Regions from separate parts of the Homo sapiens genome. Here region 2 is linked to region 1. The links come from fine-mapping of genetic effects on gene expression. A gene starts in region 1. The other region holds a variant in brackets. All regions are shown on one strand. Distances are between the middles of the regions.

Region 1 (2,891 bases):
CTCTTTGGGGGTGGGGAACAGAGACAAGAATATTGAAGCTGGGTGCCTGGGCATGGTGGCTCCTGTAATCCCAGCACTTTGGGAGGCCAAAGCAGGAGGATCAGTTGAGCCTTGGAGTTCAAGACCAGGCTGGGCAACATACCAAGACCCTGTCTCTACAAAAAAACTACAAAAAAAAAAATTAGCTGGGTGTTGTGTGGCACAACTAACAACTTGGGAGGCTGAGGCAGAAGGATAGCTTGAGCCCAGGAGTTTGAGGTGCAGTGAGTATGATCGCACCACTGCACTAATTATTTTACTTGAGTCCCTCTTAGCAAGTTTTATGTTTATTCCAATTTTACAAATAAGGACATAGACTCAAATAAGTTGGTTAATTAGAGAGAGAGAGGAGGTGGGCACACCCTGGGACAGCATTCACTCCAGACAGCACCTGAGGCTAGGGGGGCTAAAGCCACGCACCCTGAGGACCCTCAGCGGCTCCGGAGTCCCCGTGTTCCCCGGGTGCCGGTCGCGGCCTAATCACACCACAGGGGTTTGTAGGTGCTGGCATCACCTCATCAGTGACGGACCAGGAAGGCTCCTGCAGCCCAGCAGGTCCTGCTCGCCGGTGTCTGCCCTGCCCACCCAGTCTCGTCTCCGGGACCCCAAACGTGACCAAAGGGCACGGCCGTCCTCGTGCGTGGACACGTTCCACCAAGCTTACTCGCGCAGGGCGCGCCAGGGCTGCCCAGCCCTTCAGAATTTTCCCACTGTCTCTGAGGCAGTGACCCGGGGGACCCGGCCGCCTAAGGTCACAACACACGGCAGAGGCCCAGCGGCTCCGCCCGGCGCTGGCGGCCCAGCCCGCGACGAGACCCGGGGCCCCACGGTCCCGCAGGGGCTCCGGAGGCCGGGACCACCGGGCTCCCCGCATCGCCGTGACAACCAGCCCGAACCCGCGGGTCGTCCGCGCTCCCGACCCACCAGCCGGGAGCCGGCCCCGCCCTGGGGTGCCCGCCGCTTACCCCGCGGGACGGTGTACCGAGGCGGCGGCGGGAGGCGGGCGGGCGCCCGGCCGCGGCAGCTCCTCAGTAAGATGGACGCCATGTGCTCGGGCGCGGCGGCCGCTCCGGCCTCCTGCGCTGCCTCCTTCTCCGCGGCGGCCGCGGCTCTTCGCCGTCCCGGCGGCGCTTCAGACCCGGCCCGCGCGGACGGCTGACAGAGGCGGCTGGCCTCGGACGGGAGGCGCTCTCCTCAAGGACCCGGCACCAGCGGCGGCCTTGTCCCGGCACAGACGTCCGGAGGCGCGGGGCGGGGCGGCCAGGCCGCGGCTCCCATTGGGCCCCTCAGCGCCCGCCGCTGGCCAGGTGAGGGGCGGACCGCGCCACCGCGGACTACCGGTTCCGGCGTGCACCGGGACGGCCTGCACGCTGGGGTGCGGACTACCGATCCCGGCGTGCACCGGAGCGGCGGACTACCCTGAGGCGCGGACTACCGGTCCCGGCGTGCACCGGGGCGGCTGGCTCCTGGGGCTCGCTGCATCCTGGTTCCCGTCGTACCGTGGACGCCGGGGCTCGCAGCGTGGCGGCCGCAGGAGCTGAGGGAGTCGGCCGCGCTTGCGCGGGGAGTGTCTTTTCGTCTCCGGGCGGCGGCAGCAGCGCGTGTGTCCGGAACTTTTCTGGGACTAAGTCCTGCACCCACGAGTAGAAAACGGCTCCTGGGAGCTTGGGGCTCCAAGGGCAAGTCAGGGGACGCTGGGGATGGAGGGGCGCCCTCGACGCCCTCGGCCGCGGTCCCTCGCCGGCCCCCCTGCTCTGTGGCTCTGCCCTCGGCGGTCTGCACTCTGGCGCGCGCAGCTCTGAGTGCCTCTTCCCTGCGTACCGGGCGGCGCTCCCCAGATACGGCGCTGCTCGGCGTCGGGAGTCCCCGTCACCACTGGGGGGACGGGAGCGCAGGGTCCCGCCCCGAAGGACAGGGCCATGCCGGCCCCTGGAGGCGAGGGCACTAGGCCGGGTGGCGGCGCAGCCAGCATAGCGGCCCCCCATCCCGGCACACCGCGTCCTCCCGTCTGAGCGGGAGGGGTAGATATGGGTCCTGCGTTGGCGCGGGGGGACCCCTCGTTTCGCTCTGGCCTAAGCAGCCCCTGGGGTCCCGCGCGCCGCAAGAGCGCCAGACTTCCTAACCTGGGCCATACCCTGTCCGCTCCACTTCCCAGTCCAAGAAGGAACAGCCGAAGCCCAGGACGCCAAGGACCTGGCTCGAAGTCTCCAGAATTCCCGCCAGAGCTGGGCTGGGCTCGCGGACCGCTCATGCGCCGTCTCCCAGGAGCCTCCCCCCAGCCCAGTTTAATAGCCGGCCCTGACCAGTCCAGGGGAGAGAGACCGTGCAGCCTCCCAGCAGACCGTGACCTCTGAGCTCCACCTTCCCCTTCCTTCCCTAAGATGAGGATCCCTGAGTTGGGGCAGAGAAAGCAGGCAGGGAGAAAAATGGGGACCTGCGGCGCTGGGGGCCCAGCTGGTGGAGATCTCCAGCTAGGAGATCCCCAGCACAGCACTTGCCCTGCCCTCTGTCTTGTTCAGGGATGTAACCTGCCTCCTCCTGCTTCTCCGCGGCACCTCAGGGCACCGCCTGGGGAGGGTCTTGTAGTGCACACTCAGCATCTCTGTTCCCTGGAGCGCATGGGGTGTGAAACGCCTGATGCCAGCCAGCTCCCCAGTCTTGAGAGGCTGGTTGAATGGCACATCTCCCTAGGAGGCTCCCTCCCCAGGGTCCCCTCTGCCCCTGCTGTCCATGCAGTCGGTCCTCACCCGTCAGGAAAACGTAGCCTGCTTGCCTGGGTGGTTTTCCCCATCAGGAACTGCCAGGTACTGGGCCTGGATGGGCTTGAATTCCCCATCTCAGTGGGAGAAGGG
Region 2 (2,891 bases), 34 kb before region 1:
CACACCATTCTCCTGTTTCAGCCTCCTGAGTAGCTGGGACTACAGGTGCATGCCACCATGTCTGGCTAATTTTTTGTATTTTTAGTAGAAATGGGGTTTCACCATGTTAGCCAGGATGGTCTCGATCTCCTGACCCCGTGATCCGCCCACCTCGGCCTCCCAAAATGCTGGGATTACAGGCGTGAGCCACTGCGCCTGGCCAAATTTTTTTTTTATGGCTGGGTGTGGTGGCTCACACCTGTAATCCTAGCACTTTGGGAGGCTGAGGCGGGAAGATCACTTGAGGTCAGGGGTTTGAGACCAGCCTGGCTAACATGGTGAAACCCCCTGTCTACTAAAAATACAAAAATTTGCTGGGTCTGGTGGTGCACGCCTGTACTCCCAGATATTGGGAGGCTGAGGCAGAAGAGTTGCTTGAACCTGGGAGGCTGAGACTGCACTGAGCCGAGATGGCGCCACTGCACTTCAGCCCGCGAGTTCAAGATGGAAGGTACCAGGAGGCGCCCCAGGTAGGCAGCACAGGCGCCTGGAGGCTGCACCTCACAGGCTCGCATGGGGAGTCTGAAGATGCTCCAAGCCCAGATCACCCCACAGGAGGTGACAGCAGGTTGGGCCTGTGGAGGAGGCTCTACCTTGAGGGGCCACATTGGCTTCCACACCCCTTCACTGTCTGGGCAAGCTGGCAAAGGGCCCTGAAACCTGCCGACTGGCATCTCTACCTGCCACACTGTGGGCCAGGGTGCTAAGTTCACGGCAGCGTCAGCTGCTGTGCACCCAGGCACAGTGCGGAGCCCGGCCGGACTCACTCTTTTCCTAACCACCAAGCCTCCTAGGGGCCCAGTGGCCTCATCCTCAACCCCTTGCACCATCTCCTCTCACTGAGGGCTATAGATGCCCCAGCTAACCTGTCCCCATCCCTGCCCCACAACTGTCCACAAAGCCAGGCCATGCCCTCCTCAGCCTCCAGGGCCCCAGAACCTGCCTCATTACCTTCAAGCCCTCCAGCACCGGGGCAGTGTCCTTCAAGGTCTCTGACTGCAGGACTGTGTCAGGCATTTCTGGCTGTGGCTCGGTCCCCGGCCTTTGGGGAGCAGCTACCACACGTTCGGGCTCAAAATCCTTCTGAAAGGCAAGGCGACACCAGCCCAGCGCCC[G/A]CCATCACACAGAAGCAGTCTTCTTGCTCCCCGAAGCTCAGAACATATGGCAGAGGCCACACTGGGAGCAGGCCTGCAGGTGACATTGGGCAGCACACCTGCCACAGAAGGTCCCTAGGGAGGCTCCATGCAGCTGCCAGGTCACCTGGGGCCCTCTCCAGAACAGGCTAGAGCACCTTATCCATCTCTGGTCTCCCCAAGACTCCCCCAAGCTGCCCTGTCACTTGCAGAGCAGGAGGCTGAGCCTGTGGGTGGGCACCATGCATGTGACCCAAGAGGACCACAGGGCCCGCGTTGAAGAGGAGCCCAGAGGCTGGGGGAGCCTGCAGCTCCTCTGCCAGCGCCCCTCACAGCAAGTCCCTGAGGAGAGGGTGGGCACTGCCATATGCTAAGCTTGCCCCTCTGAGACGGCTAAGGTATATCTCCCATGAGCACCACTGTGGCCATCGGGGAGTCCCCATGTCAGAGTTGCAGCCCTCACACCCGGGCACCCTGCCTCCCTGACCACTCCAGGAGGAAATAAACATGCAGGACAGAGCTGCAGGGCAAGCATGCGGGAGGCCAAGACTGTGGGCGTGCGGGGGTTTCTAGGGAGGCTGGCTCAGGACAGCCCCACGCGGCACGGAGCAGGACCACCGCTTACCGCCACCTCCGAGCGCTTCTGCAGCTCCTTCTCACGGTGCTCCTGCTGGATGGCCGCCTCCTCCTGCAGCGTGGCCTCCAGCTTGGCCTTGTTGTCCACCTGCTCGCCCTCCACCTCGGCCACTTTCACCTGTGCTTCCTTTGCCTTCAGAAGAGGGTACATCTGTGGGTGAGCCCAGAAGCCACCAGAGGCCCCTGCTGCCCCTCACCTCTGTCCTGTGTCCTGTGTCCCCTGCCCCGTCACCACCTGGGCTTCACACACACAGGACAGAAGGCACTGCCGAGGTGCTGCCCGCAATTGCTGGGAGGCCCCTGGGCCGCCCTCTGCGCTCGCCCGATGACTCCTGACATGTGGGAAGGAGCATAGGCGCTGCTGACACAGCTCCAAGGGCCGCGGCCCAGATCCACAGCAGCCAACACGTGGCCAGGTCGGGACCACTGGCAACTGTGCCACACGGGGGATGGCAGGCAAGGGGCTGGTGAGGAGGGATGGAAGGAAGGGGACAGGTGGCTGGGTGGGGGCACTCGCGAGGGGGTGGGAGGCAGGCTCCTCGCCCATGGTTGAGGAATGAGTGCGCTTGCACACCTCCCCCCACCCCAGAAGAGCGGAGCCACCTATGAAGAGATGAGGTAAAAGGGGTCTCCGACAGCACGTACCACAATCTCTGGGAGGGTCTGCAGTGTGGACTTGAGCTGGTCGGCTGGAGAGAGGGTGTCCGGGAGGTACATGGCCCGGGACAGGATGAGCAGCGATGTGGGGATCTCCTGATGCAGGTGCAGGTCCAGCCACTGCAACCAAGGCCAGGTTCAGCAGATGGGCAGCCCCCCAACCCTGCTGGCCCCACAGCAGGTCCGCCCATCTCATCACCAGAATAGCTCTCAGAGAAGACAGTGTCTCAAGTTCTACAAGGTCTGTTTGTTGCTGTGCTGCGTGACCCGATGACGGCGTTAGTAAACAAAACACCAGAGAGGCTTGGGGGTCAGCAACCCCCACAGCGAGGACCCCAAGGGCCTCAGAACAGGGCACCAACTCTTCACTTAAAAACACCCCAGGGGCCGGGCGCGGTGGCTCACGCCTGTAATCCCAGCACTTTG

Alleles and levels. Positions count from the first base shown, and alleles are read on the strand shown. Sizes are in standard deviations (SD) of each study's normalised expression.
In carriers of allele G in region 2, the expression in cerebellar hemisphere of the gene that starts at base 1,292 in region 1 tends to be higher than with A alone (large effect, 0.95 SD a copy in GTEx).

Evidence for each region. PIP is the estimated chance that this variant, and not a neighbour inherited with it, causes the effect.
Region 2: its variant is the best candidate, but not a certain one, in a credible set for the expression of LETM1 in cerebellar hemisphere (GTEx, PIP 0.82).

Annotation. Positions count from the first base shown.
Region 1 is chr4:1,854,865-1,857,755 of GRCh38, forward strand. It overlaps LETM1 (leucine zipper and EF-hand containing transmembrane protein 1), which reads right to left and starts at 1,292. Exons shown (of 14, transcript NM_012318.3): 1 at 1,005-1,292. The coding sequence starts at 1,086. RefSeq lists enhancers at 500-1,001, 1,639-1,708, 2,378-2,891 and silencers at 729-918, 929-1,488, 1,889-2,108.
Region 2 is chr4:1,821,191-1,824,081 of GRCh38, forward strand. It overlaps LETM1 (leucine zipper and EF-hand containing transmembrane protein 1), which reads right to left. Exons shown (of 14, transcript NM_012318.3): 8 at 2,454-2,585; 9 at 1,798-1,941; 10 at 991-1,122. Among named protein-coding and RNA genes, the nearest start is that of FGFR3, 29 kb to the left of the region's middle. The variant G/A (reference allele first, on the strand shown) is at 1,155.